3 separate regions of the Homo sapiens genome follow, and regions 1 and 2 are each linked to region 3. Evidence: fine-mapped expression QTL. A gene starts in region 3. Each other region holds a variant in brackets. All regions are shown on one strand. Distances are between the middles of the regions. Region 1 overlaps TESPA1 (thymocyte expressed, positive selection associated 1). Region 2 has its middle 89 kb from the start of DCD. Region 3 holds the start of TESPA1 (thymocyte expressed, positive selection associated 1).

The links. PIP is the estimated chance that this variant, and not a neighbour inherited with it, causes the effect. A credible set is the group of variants that fine-mapping cannot tell apart.
Region 1: its variant is the best candidate, but not a certain one, in a credible set for the expression of TESPA1 in CD4 T cells (CEDAR, PIP 0.76).
Region 2: its variant is the best candidate, but not a certain one, in a credible set for the expression of TESPA1 in blood mononuclear cells (TOPMed, PIP 0.66).

The regions. Positions count from the first base shown.
Region 1 is chr12:54,943,908-54,952,369 of GRCh38, reverse strand. TESPA1 (thymocyte expressed, positive selection associated 1) reads left to right here. Exons shown (of 11, transcript NM_001136030.3): 11 at 1,980-4,355. It also overlaps the pseudogene LOC105369778. Among named protein-coding and RNA genes, the nearest start is that of TESPA1, 37 kb to the left of the region's middle. The variant G/A (reference allele first, on the strand shown) is at 3,071.
Region 2 is chr12:54,732,647-54,741,108 of GRCh38, reverse strand. No RefSeq gene overlaps it. Among named protein-coding and RNA genes, the nearest start is that of DCD, 89 kb to the right of the region's middle. The variant A/C (reference allele first, on the strand shown) is at 4,364.
Region 3 is chr12:54,979,409-54,987,870 of GRCh38, reverse strand. It overlaps TESPA1 (thymocyte expressed, positive selection associated 1), which reads left to right and starts at 3,109. Exons shown (of 11, transcript NM_001136030.3): 1 at 3,109-3,286. It overlaps LOC107984515 (a long non-coding RNA gene), which reads right to left and starts at 3,020. Exons shown (of 2, transcript XR_001749161.2): 1 at 2,906-3,020.

The DNA of each region.
Region 1 (8,462 bases), 36 kb after region 3:
TACTGTGATAAAGAGGTTCATGTCTTCATTGGTTTCTGTTGCTATAATAGAACATTACAAACTAGGTATTTTACTTTATAAAAGAAATTTATTTACTACAGTTCTGGGAGCTGGGAAGTCCAAGGTTGAGGGACCACATCCGGTGAGGGCCTCCTTTCTGCATCATAACATGGCAGAGGATATCACATGGTAAAAAAGCAAGAGCATGCCATCTCAGGTCTCCCTTCCTCTTCTTATATAGCCAAGATTCCCATCATGGGGCCTCACCCTGATGAGTTTATCTAATCCTAATTTTTTCCCTAAGACCTCACCTCTTGATACTATCACGATGGCAATTAAATTCCAACATGAATTTTGGAGGGCAAACTCAAACAACAGTCCATAAGGCAGTTTGGATAAAGGAATCTAGGAATTGAGCTTTTTGGAGTTCAAGGCTTACTTATAATAGGTGACGGCATGAGGAAAGATAGTTCACCCAAGAAAGTATGCAGAATCAGAATCTGAAGTAAAAAAAAAAAAACAACTTAGAAATATTAATATTTAAAGTTTTATCAAGGAACAACGTATATAAAGGAGCAATATTGATTAGAAAAAGGTTGCAAATAGAAACCAAGTGATGTTTCTCTCAAGAAGGAGGGTGTAGTCTTCAGTAACATTTACCATAAAATATCCAATAGGAAGGAAAATGCAAAGATACCATTGTATTTGTGACTAGATAACAATTACTAACCTTGATAAGAATATTTTTATTTGGGTGACAAGGCTTTAAAATATTAATATGAAAAGTGAATAAGAAATGTTGAAAAGAAAGTAGGTAAATAATTTTTTTCTAGGATGGTGAAAGTTTAAGCATACAGTAAATATTTCCCTGGAAGGAAAGAATCAATAGAATGGGAAAGGCTATGGTTTAGGAGGGAAGGAATTGTATGAGTCTCTTCTCACATTGCTGTAAGGACCTAGCTGAGAGTGGGTAAAGAAAAGAGGTTTAATTGGCTCATGGTTCCACAGGCTGTGCAGGAGGCATGGCTAGGGAGACCTCAGGAACTTTCATTCATGGCAGAAGGGGAAGGGGAAGCAAGCACATATTCACATGGTCAGCAGGAGAGAGAGAGAAGGGGGAAGAGCTACACACTTTTAAACAACCAGATCTCATGAGAATTCACTCGCTGTCATGAGAACAGCAAGGGGGAAATCTGCTTCTGTGATCCAATCACCTCCCATGAGGCCCCACCTCCAACATTCAGGATCACAATTCAACATGATATTTGGGTGGGGACACAGAGCCAAACTATATCAGGGATGTTAATGGTGTGAAGTCACTGAGAACTGGGATGAGATGAGATTCAAGGCACTTTTGGAGGGTGTAGCTAGCCATAAAGTAGTGTGACAGATATTTCTCTGAGATTAAAGGGAAAAAAAAATGGAAAAAAATTTTAAGTGTCAATATGGTTATATTGGTCATCTGGAGAGGAAGTCAAGAAAAATTCTGCCTATTTCTTTCTCTCTTTTTCCTGTGGGGTCATTACTAAAAAGTGTGAGTCAGGAAAGGAATGGTAAAAATTTGAGAATTCTACTATGTAGAAAAAACAAGAGAAATACTTATTAATAGAAAATGCATTGCTAGTTGAATAGGTGAATAATGTTAGGCTCATTTCAAGGTGCAGAACATGAATTGATAGTGGTTTAGTGATATTCTCCAACAGTGTTCAGCAATCCATACAAAAAAATAAAGGTATAAATGTATGCCTTTATAAGTATTAAACAGTAAGAGGTAAACTCTTGCAGGAATCTCACCTCATGATGAAAAGAGCAGAAACCCCAAGTCACATGACTCTTTGCTGCTGCTGCTAATAACTTTAAATGTCACTTATAATACTGAGAAACATTTCCACAGCTGAGGTATGAAAGTTCCTACCAACCTCAGTACCCAAAGTTGTTTAAAAAATGCATGATATGTATCTTTTTTATTCCCATTGCAGGCTTTCTCCACCACCACAACAGCATGTGGTCTGACAGAATTGGCTTCAAAGAAGAAACTAAAAGCCACCTCTTGCAGGAAACTGCACTGCCCTCAACATCCAGCCCCTACTCCTTGGTCCTCCAAACCCCCAAACTCTGCAGGAGAAAGGCAGCATGGTACATGGGGAGGAAGACCAGACTGAGCGATTTGGAATCCACATCCTAATGCTGCCACAAGCTGCATGCACAAAGACCTTAGGCACATCTCTTCATTTCTCTGTACACTGGTTTCTCTACTATGTGTGTATTAAAATATATAATGTGGATGATAGTAAACTGAACAAAGCCTTAATTTTCTCCCAAGCTTTGACATTGCCAAGGGCAGTTAGGAGACTTCAGGATCAAGTTTAGGGGACAAGTTTTTTTCTAATACTTTCAAAAGGCCCAAGTGAAGAGAGGAAGGACACCTCACTTTCTGGCTCTAAAAGCATGGTACATCTCACACTAGGATTCCCTCTGCACCTCTGTTCATCCCTGTATTCCTAACTAAATTCCAGAAAATCTTCTACAACACTGGAGTCCTATTTTTCTTCTTGAGACCTCCTTTGAAGAAATCAACTTGGAGACTCCTCCTTAAATCCAGTTTCTTTCTCTACCCAAAATTTTGCATCTTTATAGAAAAAGAGATAAGTAGGATTCAGAGTCTCTTCTCCTAGCCATTGTGGGGGGAAAAAATGCTATTTCTGTTGGCAGAAAACAATACAAATATTTTTTTTAAATCATGGCATGTTTTTAAAGTTAACTAACAGCTGTAGTTTGCTTTGGAAGTTAAATGTTTTGTCAATAAACAGGGCTTGAGCACATGCAGTGCTCTCTTAGGCAGTATGTGGTTTCAGAGCATCTTGGACACATTTCTCCCCTGAGAAAATATTAATATTAATAGAATGGGAGAAGTAAGATGCACGCATTTCCAGAAGTATATTATTTGGCTGCCTAATAAATTGTGAGACAAAAGAAAAAAAAAAAAAAAACAGGAAGAGAGGGACTTGAGGGAATTTGAGGGAAATCATAACCAAAAGTTTAAAGGAAAAAATTACACCAGACATGATAA[G/A]CAGAAGTTGATTTTGTTCTGGTGCTATTGCCAGCATTAGGGGAGAAGGCACAAACTGAGTCTGATACGTAGTGAGGCAGAGACAAAAGGGCTAGGGTGGAAAAATTTTTAAACCATCTGTGTTTACTAATTCCCCATACCAAAAGAACAAAATGAACTTTCTCCTATTTCATGATAAAAGATAGTTTCACAATTTGGAAAAAGCCCCCCCACTCCAAGTTTCCTACCCTTCCCACCCACAGAAACCAGGAGACAGGGGAACTATCTTCCTTGATGTTAACATTTCAAAGAGGTGGTTCTCAGGTCCTAGAGAAAGATATTCCTGAGTTGTAAAACTGGGAAGAGGCTGGAAGAAGATTTAGATCTCAAGAAATAGAAAGAACTACAGCAAATTTTCTAAAGCAAATATTCTTAAGGGAGGTCAAGGGCCTGAAGTCAGGAAGAAACCTATTTGGTCAAGCTGAGGGGAAAGTTAAGGCTATCTTGTCACAAGAGAACAGAAATATCTGACAATATTTCATTTAAAGAACTGTATTAGTCCATTCTCACACTGCTATAAATAAATACCTGAGACTGGGTAATTTATACAGAAAAGAGGTTTAATTGGCTCACAGTTCCGCAGGCTGTACAGGAAGCATGGCAACATCAGTTTCTGGGGAGGCCTCAGGGAGCTTTAACTCATGGTGGAAAGCAAAGTGGGAGCAGGCATCTTACATGGTATGAGCAGGAGGAACAAAGGAAAGGGGAGGTGCTAACACTTTTAAATGACCAGATCTTGTAAGAACTCACTCATTATACAGTACCAAGGGGAGATGGTGCTAAACGATTAATGAAAACTCTACCCAGTAATCCAATCACCACCCACCAGGCCCCACCTCCAACAATGGGGATTACAGTTTGACATGAGATTTGGGTGAGGACACAGATCCAAACTGTCAGGCCTCTGAGCCCAAGCTAAGCCATCATATCCCCTGTGACCTGCATGTATACATCCAGATGGCCTGAAGCAAGTGGAGAATCACAAAAGAAGTGAAAATGGCCTGTTGCTGCCTTAACAGATGACATTACTTTGTGAAATTCCTTCTTCTGGCTCAGAAGCTCCCCCACTGAGCACCTTGTGACCCCCACCCCTGCCTGCCAGAGAATAATCCCCTTTGACTGTAATTTTCCACTACCTACCTAAATCCTATAAAACAGCCCCACCCCTATCTCCCTTTGCTGACTCTCTTTTTGGACTCAGCCTGCCTGCACCCAGGTGATTAAAAAGCTTTATTGCTCACACAAAGCCTGTTTGGTTGTCTCTTCACACGGACGCCCGTGACATTTGGTGCTGTGACTTCGATCGGGGGACTTCCCTGGGGAGATCAATCCCCTGTCCTCCTGCTCTTTACTCCATGAGAAAGATCCACCTACGACCTCTGGTCCTCCGATGAACCAGCCCAAGGAACATCTCACCAATTTTAAATTGGGTAAGCGGCCTCCTTTTACTGCCTTCTCCAACCTCTCTCACTATCCCTCAACCTCTTTCTCCTTTCAATCTTGGCACCATCCTTCACTCTCTCCCTTCTCTTAATTTCAGTTCCTTTCCTTTTCTGGTAGAGACAGAGGAGATGTGTTTTATCCATGAACCCAAAACTCCGGTGCCGGTCAGGGACTTGGGAAGACAGATTTCCCTTGGTGTTTAATCACTGCAGGGACACCTGCTTGATTATTCACCCACGTTTCAGAGATGCCTGATCACCGCAGGGATGCCTGCCTTGATCCTTCACCCTTAGTGACAAACACCAGTTTCCTAGGGTGCAAACACCCCCCCACCCCTTCTCTCCGTGTCTCTACCCTCTCTTTTCTCTGGGCTTGCCTCCTTCACTATAGGCAACCTTCCACCCTCCATTCCTCCTTCTTCTCCCTTAGCCTGTGTTCTCAAGAACTTAAAACCTCTTCAACTCACACCTGACCTGAAACCTAAATGCCTTATTTTCTTCTGCAATGCTGCTTAACCCCAATACAAACTCAACAATGGTTCCAAATAGCCAGAAAAAGGCACTTTCAATTTTTCCATCCTACAAGATCTAGATAATTCTTGTCGTACAATGGGCAAACGGTCTGAGGTGCCTGAGGTCCATGCATTCTTTTACACATGGGTCCCTCTCTAGTCTCTTTTCCCAATGTGACTCATCCCAAATCCTCCTTCTTTCCCTTCCACCCTTCCCCTCAGTCCTAACCCCAAGCATCACTGAGTCTTTTCAATATTCCTTTTCTACAGACCCATCTGACCTCTCCCCTCATCCCCAGACTGCTCCTCCTCAGGTCGCTCCCCACCAGGCTGAATCAGGCTCCAATTCTTCCTCAGGCTCTGCTCCCCCACCCTATAATCCTTCTATCACCTCCCCTTCTCACACCCAGTCCGACTTACAGTTTCTTTCCCCGACTAGCCCCCGCCACCTGCCCAGCAATTTCCTCTTAAATCGGTGGCTGGAGCTAAAGGCATAGTCAAGGTTAATGCTCCTTTTTCTTTATCCGACCTCTCCCAAATCAGTTAGTGTTTAGGCTCTTTTTCATCAAATGTAAAAACCCACCCCAGTTCATGACTTATTTGGCAGCAACTCTGAGACGCTTCACAGCCCTAGACCCTGAAAGGTCAGAAGGCTGTCTTATTCTCAATATGCATTTTATTACGCAATTCATTCCCAACATTAAATAAAGCTCCAAAAATTAGATTTTGGCCCTTAAACCCCACACAGGTCTTAATTAACCTTGTCTTCAAGGTGTACAATAATACAGAAGAGTTGCAATTACTTGCCGCTGCTGTGAGAGAAACTCCAGCCACATCTCCAGCACACAAGAACTTCAAAACGCCTAAGCCACAGCAGTCAGGCATTTCTTCAGGACCTCCTCCCCCAGTATCTTGTTTCAAGTGCTGGAAATCTGGCCACTAGGCCAAGGAATGCCCACAGCCTGGGATTCCTCCTAAGCTGTGTCCCATATGTGCAGGACCCCACTGGAAATCGGACTGTCCAACTCACCTGGCAGCCACTCCCAGAGCCCCTGGAACTCTGGCCCAAGGCTCTCTGACTGACTCCTTCCCAGATCTTCTTGGCTCAGTGGCTGAAGACTGACACTGCCCACTTGCCTCAGAAGCCTTCTGGACCATCACAGATGCTTTCGGTAACTCTTACAGTGGAGGGTAAGTCCTTCCTCTTCTTAATCAATATGGAGACAACCCACTGCACATTACCTGCTTTTAAAGGGCCTGTTTCCTTTGCCTCCATAACTGTTGTGCGTATTGACAGCCAGGCTTCTAAACCTCTCAAAACTCCCCAACTCTGGTGCCAACTTGGACAATATTCTTTTATGCACTCCTTTTTAGTTATCTCCACCTGCCCAGCTCCCTTATTAGGCCAAGACATTTTAACTAGATTATCTGCTTCCCTGACTAGGCTACAGCCACACCTCATTGCCACCCTTTTCCCCAGTTCAAAGCCTCCTTCAAATCCTCCCCTTGTATCTCCCTACCTTAATCCACAGGTATGGGACACCTCTACTCCCTCCCTGGCAACTGGTCACATACCCATTACTATCCCATTAAAACCTAATAACCCTTATCCCACTCAATGCCAATACCCCATCCCACAGCAAACTTTAAAAGGATTAAAGTTTGTTATCACTTGCCTGTTACAGCATGCCCTTTTAAAGCCTATAAACCCTCTTTACAATTCCCCCATTTTACCTGTCCAGAAACTGGACAAGTCTTACAGGTTACGTCAGGATCTGTGCCTTATCAACCAAATTGTTTTGCGTATCCACCCTGTGGTGTGAAACCTCATATACTCTCCTATCCTCAATACCTCCCTCCACAACCCATTATTCTGTTCTAGGTAAACCTAGCTGACCCCATAGATCCTAAATCCTTTCTCCACTCCCCTATCCATTCCTTAAAAAACAGCTCCCACACTAGCTCTCCCTAACTTATCACTCCCTTTCCACTACACACAGCTGAAGTGCAGGGCTGTGCAGTTGGAGTTCTTACACAAGAGCTGGGACCACGCCCTTTAGCCTTTCTGTCCAAACAACTTGACGTTACTGTTTTAGCCTAGCCCTCATGTCTGCATGTGGCAGGTACCACTGCTTTAATACTTTTAGAGGTCCTCAAAATCACAAACTATGCTCAACTCACTCTCTGCAGTTGTCATAACTTCCAAAATCTATTTTCTTCCTCACATCTGATGCATATACTTTCTTCCCCCCTCCACTACCTCTCAGCAAGCCGAACTCATTGCCTTAACTTGAGCCCTCACTCTTGCAAAAGGAGTACACATCAATATTTATACTGACTCTAAATATGCCGTCCATATCCTGAACCACCATGCTGTTATATGGGCAAAAAGAGGTTTCTTCACTACACAAGGGTCCTCCATCATTAATGCCTCTTTAACAAATAGTCTTCTCAAGGCCGCTATACTTCCAAAGGAAGCTGGAGTCATTCACTGCAAGGGCCATCAAAAGGCATCAGATCCCATCACTCAGGGCAACACTTATGCTGATAAGATAGCTAAAGAAGCAGCTAGCATTCCAATTTCTCTCCCTAACTGCCAGTTTTTCTCCTTCTCATCGGTCACTCCCACCTACTCCCCCACTGAAACTTCCACCTATCAATCTCTTCCCACACAAGGAAAATGGTCCTTAGACCAAGGAAAATATCCCCTTTCAGCCTCACAGGCCCATTCTATTCTTTTGTCATTTCATAGCCTCTTCCATGTAGGTTGCAAACCGCTAGCCCATCTCTTAGAACCTCTCATTTCCTTTCCATCATGGAAATCTATCCTCAAGGAAATCACTTCTTAGTGTTCCATCTGCTATTCTGCTACTCCTCAGGGATTGTTCAGGCCCCCTCCCTTCCCTACACATCAAGCTCAGGGATTTGCCCCTGCCCAGGACTGGCAAATTAATTTTACTCACATGCCCCAAGTCAGGAAACTAAAATACCTTTTGGTCTGGGTAGACACTTTCACTGGATGGGTAGAGGCCTTTCCCACAGGGTCTGAGAAGGCCACCGTGTTCATTTCTTCCCTTCTGTCAGACATAATTCCATGATTTGGCCTTCCCACCTCTATACAGTCCAATAACAGACAGGCCTTTGCTAGTCAAATCACCCAAGCAGTTTCTCAGGCTCTTGGTATTCAGTGGAAACTTCATACCCCTTACCATCCTCAATCTTCAGGAAAAGCAAAACAGACTAATGGTCTTTTAAAGACACACCTCACCAAGCTCAGCCTCCAACTTAAGGACTGGGCAGTACTTTTACAACTTACCCTTCTCAGAATTCGGGCCTGTTCTTGGAATGCTACAGGGTACAGCCCATTTGAGCTCCTGTATGGATGCTCATTTTTATTAG
Region 2 (8,462 bases), 250 kb after region 3:
TACATTAAAAAGACTGAAAAAGTGCAAAATGACACTCTGAGGTTATACCTCAAGGAACAAGAGAAACAAGAACAAACCAAACCCAAACCCAGCAGAAGAAAGGAAATAACCAAGATAAGAGCAAAACTAAATGAAATTGAAACCAAAAAAATACAAAAGATAAATAAAACAAAAAGCTGGTTCTTTGAAAAGACAAATAAAATTGATAGACCAATAGCAAGATTAATAAAGAAAAGAAGAGAGAAATCCAAATAGCATCAATAAGAAACAAAACAGCAGATGTTACAACTGACACCACAGAAATACAAAAGGTTATTTAAGGCTACTATGAACACCTTTATGCACATAAACTAGAAAACCTAGAAGATATGGATAAATTTCTGAAAAAATACAACCCTCCTAGCTTAAATCAGGAAGAATTAGATACCCTGGACAGACCAAGAATAAGCAGCAAGATTGAAATGGTAATTTAAAATCACCAACAGAGAAAAGTCCAGGACCAGACAGATTCATAACAGAATTCTACCAGATATTCAAAGACCAATTGGTACCAATTCTTTTGACACTATTCCACAAGTTAGAAAAAGAGGGAACCTGCCTTAATTCATTCTATGAAGCTAGCATCAACCTAATACCAAAACCAGGAAATGACATAACCAAAAAAGAAAACTACAGACCGATATCCTTGATGAACATAAATGTTAAAATCCTTAACAAAATATTAGCTAATAGAATCCAACAACATATCAAAAAGATAATCCGCCATGATCAAGTGGCTTCATACCAGGGATGCAGGGATGATTTAACATATGCAAGTCAATAAATGTGATATACCACATAAGTAGAATTAAAAACAAAAATCACATGATCATCTCAATAGATGCAGAAAAGGCATTTGACAAAATCCAGCATCCCTTTTAATTAAAACTCTGAGCAAAATCAGCATACAAGGGGCATACCTCAATGTAATAAAAGCCATCTATGACAAACCCACAGCCAACATAATAGTGAATGGGAAAAGTTGAAAGCATTCCCTCTGAGAACTGGAACAAGACAAGGATGCCCACTCTCACTATTCCTCTTCACCATAGTACTGTAAGTCCTAGCCAGAGCAATCAGACAACAGAAAGAAATAAAGGGCATCCAATTAGTAAAGAGGAATTCAAACTGTCACTGTTCGCTGATGATATGATTGTTTACCTCGAAAACCCTAAAGACTCCTCCAGAAGGCTCCAAGAACTGATACAATAATTCAGCAAAATTTCTGGATACAAGATTAATGTACACTAATCAGTAGCTCTTCTATACACCAACAACGACCAAGCAGAGAATCAAATCAAGAACTCAACCCCTTTTACAATAGCTGCAAAAAAAATTAAAACAAATACTTAGTAATATACCTAACCGAGGAGTTGAAAGACCTCTACGAGGAAAACTACAAAACACTGCCGAAAGAAATCATAGATGACACAAACAAATGGAAACACAAACCATGCTCATGGATGGGTAGAATCAGTATTGTGAAAATGACCATACTACCAAAAGCAATCTACAAATTCAATGCAATCCCCATCAAAATGCCACCATCATTCTTCACAGAATTAGAAAAAAAAATTCTAAAATTCATATGAAACCAAAAAAGAGCCCACATAGCCAAAGCAAGACTAAGCAAAAAGAACAAATCTGGAGGCATCACACTGCCTGATTGCAAATTATATTATAAGGCCATAGTCACAAAAACAGCATGGTATTGGTATAAAAATAGGCACATAGAAAAATGGAACAGAATAGAGAATTCAGAAATAAACCCAAATACAGCTAACTGATCTTCAACAAAGCAAACAAAAACATAACGTGGGGAAAGGACACCCTTTTCAACAAATGGTGATGGGAAAATTGGCTAGCCACATGTAAGAGAATGAAACTGGATCCTCATCTCTCTCCTTATACAATAATCACCTCAAGATGGATTAAGGACTTAAATCTAAGACCCAAAACTATAAAAATTCTAGAAGATAACCTTGGTAAAACCCTTCTAGACATTGGCTTAGGCAAGGATTTCATGACCAAGAACCCAAAAGCAAATGCAATAAAAACAAAGATAAATAGCTGGGACTTAATTAAACCAAAGAGATTTTGCATGGCAAAAGGAACAGTCAGCAGAGTAAACAGACAACCCACAGAGTGGGAGAAAATCTTTACAATCTATACATCTGACAAAGGACTAATAACCAGAATCTACAATGAACTCAAACAAATCAGAAAGAAAAAAACAAACAATCCCATCAAAAAGTGGGCTAACGACATGAATAGACAGTTCTCAAAAAAAGATATACAAGTGGCCAACAAACATATTAAAAAAAGCTCAACATCACTAATGATCAGGGAAATGCAAATCAAAACCACAATGTGATACCACCTTACTCCTGCAAGACTGGCCATAATCAAAAAATCAAAAAACAGTAGATGTTGGAGTGGATGAGGTGATCAGGGAACACTTCTACACTGCTGGTGGGAATGTAAAATAGCACAACCACTATGGAAAACAGTGTGGAGATTCCTTAAAGAACTAAAAGTAGAACTACCATTTGATCCAGCAATCCCACTACTGGGTATCTAGCTAGAGGAAAAGAAGCCATTATACGGAAAAGATACTTGCACTTGCTTGTTTATAGTAGCACAATTCACAGTTGAGGAAATATGGAACCAGCCTAAATTCCCACCAGTCAATGAGTGGATAAAGAAACTGTGATAGATGATAGATAGATAGATAGATAGATAGATAGATAGATAGATAGATAGATAGATAGATAGATAGATAGATAGAATACTACTCAGCCATAAAAGGAATGAATTAATTGCATTCACAGTGACCTGGATGAGATTGGAGAGTATTATTCTAAGTGAAGTAACTCGGGAATGGAAAACCAAACATTGTATGTTCTCACTGTTATGTGGCAGATAAGCTATGAGGATGCAAAGGCATAAGAATGATACACTGGACTTTGGGGACTTGGGGGGAAGAGTAGGAGGAGAGTGAGGGATAAAAGACTACAAATAGGGTGCCATTCACTGCTTGGGTGATGGATGCATCAAAATCTCACAAATCACCACTAAAGAAATTACTCATATCACCAAACACCACCTGTACCCCAATAACCTATGGAAAAATAAAATTTTTAAAAAAAGAAAAAGAAAAAAATGATATCACACATTACTGCTGGGAGAATTAAGCACTATCCATTCAACTCCACCAGCAGAAGACAACTGAAAGCTCATTCTTGGTTTATCCTGGATTCTGCCTACGCACCTTTTCGTTTGCTGGTTTTAATCTGTTTTCTTTTCCTGTAATAAACTATAACTGTGTAACTATAACAGCCTTTCTGAATTCCGTGGGTCCTTCCAGAGAATCATCAAATCTAATGGTAGTCTTCGGGACCCCTGACACAGCAAGGATTAATGATGATTACAAAATCCACTCATTTATGTATAAAAATAGTTCTTAAGAACTTTTAAATCATTCAATAAATTGATTGTTGGTTAATACAAATATGAAAAGAGTACATTGGCTACTTGAATTTAGAAAGAATATTATATCCTTTTGAGCAAAAAGATAATATATTTTAAATAATAAAATTAAGAGGAAGACTAATCAAAATTAATATTTGTAGAATTGTTTAGTATACCAGCATGTTTGACATTAAGCAAAATAGTTTTTAATAATCATATTTTATTTTTATTTTATTATTTTAATTGCATCTAGGCCATGAGTCTTACATGAAAACAATCTTATTTGGAAATTCTTCACATCATATTATGTTGAATTAAAAGCAAAATGTCAACTTTCCCACCTTAATATTTCATGAAAAAGAAAAACAGCAAAATCATGTAAGTCACATTTCAAGTACTTGTCAGACACATCCACACTCATACACAAACAAGGTTTGTTTTTTCTAGTACCAATCCAGCCATAATAAAGAACACAAGCAGTAAGAATAAAACAGGAATGTGAACAAGGGACACTATATGAAGCATTGGAAAAACACATTGTGTTCTCATTAATCAAACTTCAAACCCACAGATTTTACAAGAATAATTTAAGAAGATGCTGCCTCAGTTCTCAGGCTATCAAAAACTTCAAACTAAAAGACTTTTTAAAATTATTACTAAGGGCTGGGCATGGTGGCTCATGCCTGTAATCCCAACACTGGGAGATCAAAGCAAGTGGATCACTGGAGCCTAGAAGTTCAAGACCAGCCTGGGCAACATGGCAAAAAAACATCTCTACCAAGAAATAGCTGGGTGTGGTGGTGCACATCTGTGGTCCCAGCTACTCAGGAAGCTGAGGTGGGAGGATCACTAG[A/C]GCCCAGGGAGGTTGAGGCTGCAGTGAACCATGATCACACCCCTGTACTCCAGCCAGCACAACAGAGTGAAACCCTGTCTCAAAAAAATAAAATAATATTATTACTGTTACACACGTCTGTGTGAAGAGACGGCCAAACAGGCTTTGTGTGAGCAATAAAGCTTTTTGATTCCCTGGGTGCAGGCAGACTGAGTCTGAAAAAGGAGTCAGCAAAGGGAGATGGGGTGGGCCAGTTTTATAGGATTTGGGTAGGTAGTGGAAAATTACAGTTAAAGGGGTTTTCTCTTGAGGGTAGGGGTGGGGGTCACAAGGTGCTCGGTGGGGAGCTCCTGAGACTCATTGTCCAGGAGAAGGAATGTCACAAGCTCAATTGATCAGTTAGGGTGGGACAGGAACAAATCACAGTGGTAGAATGTCATCAGTTAAGGCAGGAATTGACTATTTCACTTCTTTTGTGGTTCTTCAGTTGCTTCAGGTCATCTGGATGTATCCGTGCAGGTCACAGGGGTTATGATGGCTTAGCTTAGGCTCAGAGGCCTGACAATTACTATAGACTGAAAAACACTTTCAGATGTTGAAGAAAAGTTTGTAAGATTTTTCCAAGCCTATCAATCCTAGATACAAAGTTCTTTTTAGAAAATTTGTCACTGAGTTATATTTTATTGGTGCTAACAAGTATTTCACTTCAGTCTTTTGTACATCAGACACTTGTATAGCAAGGCAGGTTTGTGATAAATTCTTCTTGATCTTCTTCACTTGTGTATGGGCATTGGAGGAGCTTTCCCCTTGCCCTCAGAGGGTTTGCTGAAAAAAATCAATTTACAGTAAGGCAGATTAATAGGACAAAAAGCATACAAATTTATTTAACCATGTGCTCGAGAAGAATCATAGAGTGATTACCCAATTTCCCAACAGGGCCCAGACACTTCTATAACCTCTTTCAGAGGGGAGGGGGAAGATGGGGAATATAGAGGTAATTCTGGTTGAGGGGCATTAAATAATTACTAAGGAAAAATGAATAGGTACTTAGGAGAATGAATGGAAGGTGAGAACAGAAATTGACTTGTAAATGGTTTTCTTTGGAAGTTAAAAGAACCTGAGAGACAGGTATTATTTTGTAAAATGGTTGGTTCTGGTATGGTTATATTCTTCCTCTTCTTTCCTGAAATAGTGAGATAACAGGGAAGGGAAGAAAAGGCAATTGTTCTTGATGGGCCTATCTGATCTTTTTGAAGTTAGGGGATAAGTTTCTTCTGAGGCCTGTTGATTTATAAAGTCTTTTAATTCAAAATATACATTATACCAAGGAGCTTATTCATTCTCCCTGTCTGGAACTCCCCTAGAAGTTTCACACATAAAAAGCTGAGTTAGGCCGGGCGCGGTGGCTCATGCCTATAATCCCAGCACTTTGGGAGGCCAAGGTAGGTGGATCATGAGGTCAGGAGTTCAAGACCAGCCTGGCCAAGATGGTGAAACCCCGTCTCTACTAAAAATACAAAAATTAGCTGGGTATGGATTATAGGCGGGCACCTGTAATTCCAGCTACTTGGAAGGCTGAGGCAGAGAATTGCTTGAACCTGGGAGGCGGAAGTTGCAGTGAGCCAAGATCACACCACTGCACTCCAGCCTGGGTGACAGAGTGAGACTCTGTCTCAAAAAAAAAAAAAAAATCCTAAGTTAGTGGCTCTGGAGAGAGAAGTTGGTTTAGTAGCTGGGTAGTAAGAGATCTGAAAAGGAAGAAAAGAACATAGATTAAAATGAGAAAAGAACATATCTAAGCACACTTCCCCACACCCCATTAAACCAGTCTCCCATTCCCAGGAATAGGTCAGACCAATAGAACAGTTTAGCCTTGTTTACCTGATGGATAATATTTTACCTTGACCTTCAAGAGGTGCAGATCAGTCTCTACTTGCCCTGAGCGGTTTATGTAGAAACAGCATTTGTCACCAATAGCTGCACAAGCTCCTCCCTGTTGGGCTGTCAGCACATTCAGGCTGCAGCAGTTCTAAAGTACAGCAGAAGCTGGACTGTTGACTTCTGACTGGAGTGCTCCCAAGGCTTGGGTAGTGATACTGAAGTCTTGTTCTATTGCCATGGAAAGATTTTAAACTGCCCTTTCATTTTCTTAAGTTCCAAATGCCAGGGGAAAAGTTCTGAGGACTGAAAAGAACATAGATTTGTGATATATAGGTGGGTTTTTTACAAAGTCACATTCATTACCTCTGTGTGGCACCACTTTATGAACAAAAAGGCCCATTTGTAATTTGGCTGCCATTTAAAGTGGAGTACCTAGTAACAGAGGATGTCAGATAACTGAGTCCACAGCACCCTGAGTATCTAGGTGGGAACCACTTGTATATCTTGTTACCACGCAATATTAAAAGGCCGCTGTTATTTACAGATAGGGTCAGGGTGAAGCCTGTGGCGCCTCAGCCTGAAGTTTGCTGTGCCTTGTCTTCTTTGTTATTGGCATTTCCACATCTGCAGCTATCATGTCTCCCTGTCAATCTGTGGGAGCAAAACAGGTTGTGAAATATTTTATATAAAAGACCTTTAGTTTTGGCTGTTATAGGGCTTGGTTTTGTCACCTAGCCAAATCAGTCCAGACTTTGGGTCTATCCATATGTAATCTTTAGTATCTGACAGGTAAGCTACCCCAAGTTGCACACCAGGGCTGGCTTGTGAGCCATCCATAACATCTGGTGATTTGATAAATATTGATTTCATGAGTCAGCATCAGGACCACCTATGGTCTGTGTAAGAAGTGCAAGAATGCCATCTGTGGAATCAAACTATAAGGTCTGATTGCAATATTGCCTAGTATGTCACCTAGCAAGGGTCCAGCATCATTCCTGTTTTCAATGCAGAAGGAAAATTTTCTTTCTAGTAATTTTATCTAAGCAAAAGACAGTTTTGAGCTTCCATGGTGGCTTTTCTGTGTCCAGTTGACTTACCATAAGAGAGGCAATGTGACTTTGTTTCTCTGGTTCTGGATGCCATATCTTGTCATACATCCATCTTCTAGACTGAATCCACCAGGTGCTCATACTGGCAGAAACAAAAATAATTTCAGGTTCTTTTGCATCATCTAGATATTGGCATAACCAAAATTAGACTGACTAATGTTGTCAGGATTTAAAAGACTGGTGCAAAGGGTTTGTGCCCGACCGTCTAGAAAAATAGCAAGAATTAGTAAAAGCAAAGCACAGTTCAAAAGAAGAGTCACAGCGAAAGATCAAAGGGAGTATGAGAGAGATAAGTTCAGGCAATCTTTAATCACCTTTCAATTAAAAAGTCAAGAAACAATAGATGCTGGTGAGGCTGTGGAGAAATAGGAACGCTTTTACACTGTTGGTGGGAGTGTAAATTAGTTCAACCATTGTGGAAGACGGTGTGGCCATTCCTCAAGGATCTAGAACGAGAAATATCATTTGACCCAGCAATCCTATTATTGGGTATACACCCAAAGAAATATAAATCATTCTACTATAAAGAGACATGCACACGTATGTTTATTGTGGCACTATTTATAATAGTAAAGACACAGAACCCACCCAAATGCCGATTGATGATAGACTGGATAAAGAAAATGTGGCACATATACATCACGGAATACTATGCATCCATAAAAAGGAATGAGATCATGTCCTTTGCAGGGACATGGGTGGAGCTGGAAGCCATCATCCTCAGCAAACTAATACAGGAACAGAAAATCAAATACCACATGTTCTCACTCATAAATGGGAGTTGAAAGATGAGATCACATGGACACAGGGAGGGGAAAAACACATGCCGGGTCCTGTCGGGGGGTGGGGGACAAGGGGAGGGAGAGCATTAGGACAAATACCTAATGCATGCAGGGTTTAAAACCTAGATGATGGGTTGATAGGCGCAGCAAACCACCATGGCACATGTATACCTATGTAACAAACCTGCACGTTCTGCACATGTATCCCAGAACGTAAAGTAAAATTTTTAATAAAAATCCCCATGGTGTTCATTCAGCCCAAGAAGAGAAGGTTTAGAGGTGTCAGTAGGTAAGGAGTGACTGAACACTATTTTAAAAGGGGCTAATCCCTGTCTCCTATTTGAAGTG
Region 3 (8,462 bases):
TTCATGGTGCCAAAGATATAGAGACAATGTTTTCAAAGGGTGGGAAGGGCAGGTGAGAGGGAAAAAAGAGAAAGGGGAAGGAGGAAAGGAGGGAAGGAAGGAAAGAAGGAAGGAAGGAAGGAAGGAAGGAAAAGGAATGGAAGGAAGGAAGGGAAAGAAGGAAAGAAACAAAGAAAGAAAGAGAAAGACTATACAACTGAGAAAGAAGATAAACAGAGGAATACCCTGGGCCGCCTCCTCCTCCTAGGAATCATATAGTCTTCATCTTTGTCTTTCAGAAGCTGCTTGTAGAAGAGAAAAATATTTCTTTCAAAAAATAAATCACAAATACTATAAACATATAAACCTACATATGTACTCATAAAAATTAAGAATAAATATAAATAAAAACCAAAAATTAATACATCTTTTTTATTAACAAAAAAATCTCTAGCAATTGCTTGTGAAATGGTATCTTTAATGAGTGAGGTAATTTTGACAGATAGACATAGTATTCTGCAGAAACTGAAAATATTATATTTCATGCAAATCAAAACCACAATGAGATACCATCTCACACTACTCAGAATGGCTATTATTAAAAAGTCAAAAAATAAAAGATGTTGGCGAGGTGGCAGAGGAAAAGGAATGTTTATACACTGTTGGCGGGAGTGTAAATTAGTTCAACCCTTGTGGAAGACAATGTGGCGATTGCTCAAAGACCTAAAAACAGAAATATCTTTAGACTCAGCAATCCCATTACCGAGTATATACCTGGAGGAATATAAATCATTCTGTTATAAAGACACGAGCACATGTATGTTTGCTGCAACACTATTCACAATAGCAAAGACATGGAATCAACCCAAATGCCCAGTGATGATAGACTGGATAAAGAAAATGTGGCACATATACACCATGGAATACTATGCAGCCATAAAAAAGAATGAGATCATGTCCTTTGCAGCAACATGGATGGAGCTGGAGGCCATTATCCTTAGCAAACTAACACAGGAACAGAAAACCAAATACCGCATGTTCTCACCTATAAGTGGGAGCTAAATGATGAGAACACATGGACACATAGAGGGAAACAACACACACTGGGGCCTATGGGAGGGTAGAGGGTGGAAGGAGGGAGAGGATCAAAACAAATACCTATTGGGTACTAGGCTTAATACCTGGGTGATGAAATAATCTGTACAACAAACCCCTATGACAGGAGTTTACCTATGTAACAAACTTGCACATGTACCACTGAACTTAAAATAAAAGTTAAAAGAAACTATTATATTTCAAGAGTCTTAAAAATAGCTGCAATTTCTTGAGCATTTGCTGTAAGGTAGGCGCTGGACTGAATACTCTGTATTCCTTTATTCTTATAGCTCTACAACCACTCCTGTAAGGTTATCCCCATTTAGCAGCTAACAAACTGAGACCTAGAGATGTTAACGTATCCAAGACTACAGAGCTACTTGATGCCAGAGCTTCACTCTAAAGCCTGCTCTCCTAACCATCAAACTATCAATGTTAACAAAATGTTGACATTTGGGCCAGGACAATTATTCCTTATACTGAAGAGTCCCATCCCTTCAAAAGCACTTATCATCATTGGCCCTCAGGTACTAAATACCAGTATCAGCTTCCCATTTCTTTGAAAATTAAATCTCTCTCACATATTTCCAAACTCCCTACCGAAGTTATATTCTCCATTTCCCAAACATATTGGAAAACAACTGTTAAGGAAAACATTGAATTCTAGAAACTTAGGATTTAAAAGAGTTGTTAAGTTTCCATTAGTTCAGCTTTTATAGTTAATTTGTACGGAAAAGAATAGTAAATAAAGAGAATTAGGGCGTGTTGGATTTAGCATTTTACTTGTTGACTGTGAAGCTAATTCTCAGAGAAGCACATATTTAGCATCTACTATGTCCTGAGAAAATATGTTAGATATTTTCATGCCTACGTAAAAGGAATAGCGTGGGAGAAGGGTTGAGTGAGAAACAGAGAGAATTGTTATTTTCCTCACATTATACTTGAAGAAAATAATGTTTTGAGAACTTAATTTGCCAAGCAAGAATTTTATTTAGGATTATTTCTACCATATTATAGCTATACTATGGATACTCAATGGAGTTGTCCCATTGATGATTGGAAATGGAATTTAGAAACATGGTAAAAAAAAAATCTAACTATACCTATAGCCAAAAAATCAGAAAGAAGGTAATGAACATGTGAAAATCAGTCACAATTAACACATTAGAGGAGTGCCTTGTAGAATAAATATTGTGATATACATTCATAAATAAATGATTTAAAGAAGGAAACAGTAGAATCAGGAGAGAGACAGAAAGAAGATATCCAAAATGCAGCAGCATCCTACGGAGAAGAGTGTTCAGAGATACTGGAGAAGCGAGGAGGGATAGTTAGCAGTGCTGGATGCTCCCGGTGGGTGAAAGTGATTGAGGCCTGGGAGAAACCTTTTAGAGTTCAACAAGCCTTTTCCAAACTGAAAACCAATAAACTGAAGACATCTTCAGGGTGTAACCGATTTTAAAAGTTCAGCTTTGAAAACGTTGGGGAAAGCAGTCATTTACTACAAAAACAAAAACTTTGAAGTGGTTTGAACATAAAACAAAGTTAAGAAACTAACAGAAAAAAAAAGTAGTCAGTATTCAAAAACAAGCTTCGGGGGAATTTACCAGAGTATGAAAGTTATCAACACAGAGCGACTGGCTCAGAGCCCTCTCAAGTGTGTGATACGACTGGAAACTTCTTCTCTGAGATAAACGCCAGATCATTTATGAGAGAGAGCTTTCCCATTTTCAGACAGCTCTCCTGAGGACAGAAGGATTTATCTGCAGCAGTGGAATTCTAGTTATATGGTAGGAAGACTCCTGCACACACCTCTTTAAATGGACTGTACCTTTGCCTTAATAGGAAAAGATCTCCTGTTTTTCTGGAAAGACAGAGGCAGCTCTGGGGCAGGAAGGTCTTCCTAGTTGTGAGCACCGTGTCTACGGATGGTTTGTCCTTCGCTCAGTCTCCTGAGCCGGAGCAAAGGATGTGGCTGGGCCAGGAGGCGGGGACTGCATCTACATGTGTGGATGTGTGTGTGTGTGGTGTGTTCTCATTTCCGCTTCCCCTTTTGAGCAGGCAACAGCAGTTGAATGAGTTCAGGGAGAAAGGCATAATCTACAACATGATACTTTCTCACTTGCTTCACCTCTGTGCCCACACCTGTGAAGGCCTCGGCCCAGCTTCGACAACTGCTTTGCCTCAAACTCAGCTTTCTACCAGCAGACAGGTAAGCACAGCCTTTATCTCAGTTTCAAGGCTGTACTGATTTAGGGTGATGCTAGGAGAAAGAAGGAAACATGTCAGAGAAAAATCAGGCTGTCAAGTCAAGGGAAAATCAAGAGAAAATCTCCCACCACTCTTACTTCAACCTTAAAAGCATCCATCATTATGCCTAGGAGAACGATGCTGGGTGCCCTTTTGCTTTCGTTTGTTTGTTTTCTCTTTATTATCAGAGAGGTAATCTTTCTAGATTCTCAAAACTTGGGTCTCTTTGATGACTTGAATAACATTTTAGGAATTTTTTTTCACCTTTCTCACCTGCAAAGTTCTTCTCTGTGTCTTGCTGAACTCATTGTTGCTGCAATTTCCATCTGATTATAACATCGAAAAGTTCTCAAGGAAGAAGTTTCCCGGTTTCATTTCAGGCCCTACTCTAGTGTCCATAGCTCCAACCATTGAGAGTACCTGGCTGAAATCAACTTTGCTTTCTGTGGGTATGACCTCTTTCTTCAGAAGCTGTAGAAGAAACTTGTTGAGATAAACTGCAGCAAGATATATTGAGGTCAGCTACGAGGGAGGATGTACACACTTGAGTGAGGTAAGGTCAAATTCACCGGGAGGCTCAAGATAGATGGATAGCCACCATCAGGACCAGATTTCAGGGTTCACATCTCAAAGATAGATAGATGGATGTGTTGCCTTCTCAGTGACCTACATAATATTGGGGGCTTCATGCTCCTCCAACACCCCTTGCCCCAGTGGTAGCAGGCAGAGCATATCACCACCTACATGAGTTTTGGGGTAGATGGAGGAGTGGAAAGATCCTCCACCCTGGGGTTTTCCCATGCCCCTTCTGTGCCACTAAGCTCACCAGTGGGTGGAAGAAAAAGGGTGGGTCCCCAGGGCAGGGCAAGGACAAGAAAGGAGAGTTCCACAGAAGTGATTTGACAAGACTGTGAGCATTTACAGGAGATATCCAGGGAAGTACTAGTGACTCTGTATACCACAAATGGTCCTGAGTAGAGAGGTAAGGAGACTTTCTAGATGGTGCAGGGCAGTACCTAGGATGGGAGGTTGGAGGTAGGAACCTTCAACTTGTGTGTCCAAGTATCAGACTCAATAGTTGTTCAGCTGAGTGATTAGAGATAAAGATCTCACAATATTGTCTTGCAGCATGAAGTGTTAGTAGGAAGAAGGGAAGTCAGGTTTATTGTCTGTCTCTACTTGGACTATTATCAGAAATAACAAGCTGAAGATATAGCAGAAGGGATAGAAAGCAATTTAACATCTGAGTTATTCGCATGCACCCCAGGGTGTTTAGAAACCATTTACAACCACGCTACCAACATGTTCTCATAACTCTTGGGTTTTTTGAAAATTAAGATGGAACCCTGCGATTCAGCATTATGTAGTGAACATGAAGCCCCAACCGTCATTTTCAGTTCAATGTTTGATTTGGATTCTAGTATGGAGGTCTCGTCTCAGCCAATGCTGTGACTTACAAGATTCCTTCTGGGCTACAGTAAGGGGAAAAGATCACACGTTTATTTCCACCTGCAAACTGACAACTGTTCTCTTTTCCACCTAAGGCACAAGACCAAAGTGGATATTCCAGTACCCACAGTACTGTGTGCCTTACAACACCCAGGCCTGATGCAGAATGGCCTAAACACAGATTTCAGATTGAGAAAAGAGTTCAGTCAAATAAGTAGAGGGACGAGGAGAAGAGAGTGTGTAGATATTGAAAAAGAAAAGCAGGAAAGAAGAAAAATGAATATATGCAGGACAGAGCTTATTACCAAGGAAATGAAACTGAAGAATTAAAGATACGAATTCACAGAGCTAACACAATGGTTGAGAAATCTGCTCATTCTCCCTACTTTCTCTTGATGAAGCCATCTATAAATCAGCTCAGATAAACTGCTGTTTCTTATTCTTGATGTCTTTATTGCCCATTCAAATGAAGATATTTGATGTCTCCCTACATTGAGAACAAGCGATTAATTTTTTTTCCAAATCCACAACTTTAATATTTCCTGTAGCAATTATACAAGCCTTTCTTAAAATTCATATCCTAAAAGTGGAAGTAAGGAAGAAAGGGAAGGAGAGGAAAAAGGTCTTAGATGGTCTTCTTTCAGTATTTATTCAGCTACGCTTATTTGTGGGAGAAAGAGTATGAAAAGGGAGGGGAATAGGAGTTCTATTGACTAATGGGCATTTTTTCTTTCTGTTATTTACCAAGTAACATCTCTCCTTTTCCCCGAACAGATTGAACTGCTCCTTAGACAATAGAAGTCTCAGAATGCTCAAATATTATACTCAGGGAAATTCTTGTTCTGATGATCTTCCAACCTGAGTGACATGGAAGAGGGTTAGGAGCTAGAAGACAGTTCTATGAAGGAATGTGAGAATTTGTTGCAGATTGGGGTATGTCAAATGGGGGACAATCCACCTGGGTTGAGGTGGAGTTTGTCCAGTTCATGAACAGAGAAATGTTAGCTACTCTGGGATTTCCCGCAGCTCTGCGATGGTAATGATGTATATCTTGGCTGTGGATGCAGAAGGTCTTATGGGCCACATCATGGAAACCCCATTTCCTTCTTCTCTCCTCCCACACTGGTTCTCACTCTCAGTCTCAACTCACAGGCACTGCTTGGGGCATAGGTACAAAACAGACAGAAGAGAAGAGAGGTCTGTCTCATACATGTCCCCTAGAGCACTAAAGGCAAACCTGGGACTGGGCCTTGGAAACCAAGTGTGGCAGGAGGAAGGCTGTATGATATAAAGGAAGAAAGCATGCATCTGGAACTCAGAACTTGTGAGTTTGGTTCCCATTTAAAACCACTAATATTCTTTGTGACTCCAGGCAAGCCTGCTTCTCCCTCCCTCTCTCTCTCTCTTTCTCCCTCCTTTCTCTCTCTCTTCAGTTTCCTCAACTACAAAATGAGTGAACAGGATTAGGTAATCTCTCTGGTCCCTTTGGGAATTAGGTAAGAAAGAAAGACTTTTTTTTTTTAATATATTATACTTTAAGTTCTAGGGTACACGTGCACAATGTGCAGGTTTGTTACATATGTATACATGTGCCATGTTGGTGTGCTGCACCCGTTAACTCGTCAGTTACATTAGGTACATCTCCTAATGCTATCTCTCCCCCCTCCCCCCACCCTAGGACAGGCCCCAGGAAAGAAAGACTTTTCATTGCTTACTTTTTATCTCTGCTTAACACAGATTTAAAAAATCTTTTTCACCATCTTGATTTTATACTGTCAACTGTACCCTGCAATTCTCACCTTCTTCCTTCCTTCTTTCCTTCCTTATTCCTCAAGATGTTTCAACTTTAGTGAACATCTTAGACTGAGGGGAGATTCATAATCATAATCATATCTATCACTTATTAAGCACCACCTTTATACATCAGGGACTTAATATGTGTTACCTGATTACAACTGCCAATCACCCAACTAGTTTGGCACAGTATCTATTTTATGAAGAAAATTAGGTATAGACTAGGTGTGGTGGCTCACACCTATAATCCCAGCACTTTGGGAGGCCAAGGTGGGAGGATTGCTTGAGGCCAGGTGTTCAAGACCAGCCTGAGTAACACAGCAAGACAAAAGAAAAAGAAAAAGAAGAAACTTAGGTATAGAAGAAAAGATAGTGTTACCAAGGACAAATATGCAGAAAGCAGACAGAACTATGATTCCAAATTAGGCTTACTCTGATTCCAAGGCCCAAACTCTTTCTACAGTTTTCCTTTTCTTTAATTTCTAAATAACACTCTGAACTTTAAAGAAAAAGAAGCATTGGTCATCCTTACTGAGCCCCTTGAAAATTGCCCCATGGTGAAGTATCTGTAAGCAGAGCTGATATTTGTCAGGTGCAAACTGGTAGGCTAATAGTTGCTAAAATATTAAAATATGTCTACTAATGATAATTATCCACTTTCCCAAGCCCTCTGAGTGCCCATGACCAGCCCAGCTATCCCAGCTCTTTCCTCAAGACTCCCCAGACAGGCCCCAGAAATTCAAGGCCACATCAGCCATGTACCGGGCGGGGCCCCACCACAGGGCGGTGATGGTATCAGCTCTCATTGCTCTGTGGTGCCCCAAACCGTTATGAAATATTCTGAATGCCACAACAACCTGAAAGTAATGCGGAATTCCAGGCAGATTCTCTCCTCCCAACTAGAAGTTAGGTGGGCCCTTGCCAAAAAAACCACTCTGTAAGCCTGAGGAAGGCTAAACTGCTTCATAATCACCTAGCTGGAGTCAGAAAGGAAATTATTCTAATAACACAAACAAAGCAACACTTCCTGCACTAAGACTGTCACAGAACCAAATATAAATTACATTGTGTTTATGGTGCTTCTTCTCTACTAGACTATAAGATGGAGAGCTTACATAGATGCAAAATGGAGAATTTACTAAAATAACTTCTCCTTTTTTTTTAATCCCAAATTACATTGGATGGTGACATTGGGCCATTTTCTTATTCTAATGTCAGTGGAAAAACTATATAACATGGAGTCAGACCAACTTGAGTTTAAATCTCAGCACTACAGGGATGTGGCCTTGGACAAATAACGTATCTCTGTGAGGGTCAGGTAACCATAATCAGCTCTAAAGTGGTTGTCAGGATTAAGTTAAGCAGTTTACAGGAAAGTTTTATGGATAAATATGCAGTACTCTATACATTTCAGTTATTATGACTACCTACCTTTGACTTGCCCGTGTCAATGTGTAGTGAATCCCCACCTGCTTCCCTGGGAAAACAGAGACTAGAAATAGGCGATATTCTTCGAGTCATAATTATGACATACCTCTACAGGTTTTCTGCCGCTGCTACAGTTACTGCCTCTGATAATAATTTTTGTTGGAAGATACTCATTTCACAGCTCTTAACTCCCTCATCTTAAACCAGTGGAGGATATTTCTCCTGTCTAACCTCAATCCTATCTACTACAATTTCTGCTTTTAACTATAGCATCCTCAGAACAAGAATTATATCTTACTCCACTTGGCTGAACCCAGATTCCAGAACTCTTGAAAGATTGTGGAGAAGGATTTATGGAATGAACGTCTAGAGAAATGTAGAAAAGAGGAAAGAACAAAAGGCTGGAAATGGTAGCAGAGGGGGGACATGAGGGTTTGGGCGGATTCAGGCAAGAAGCAATAGTACCA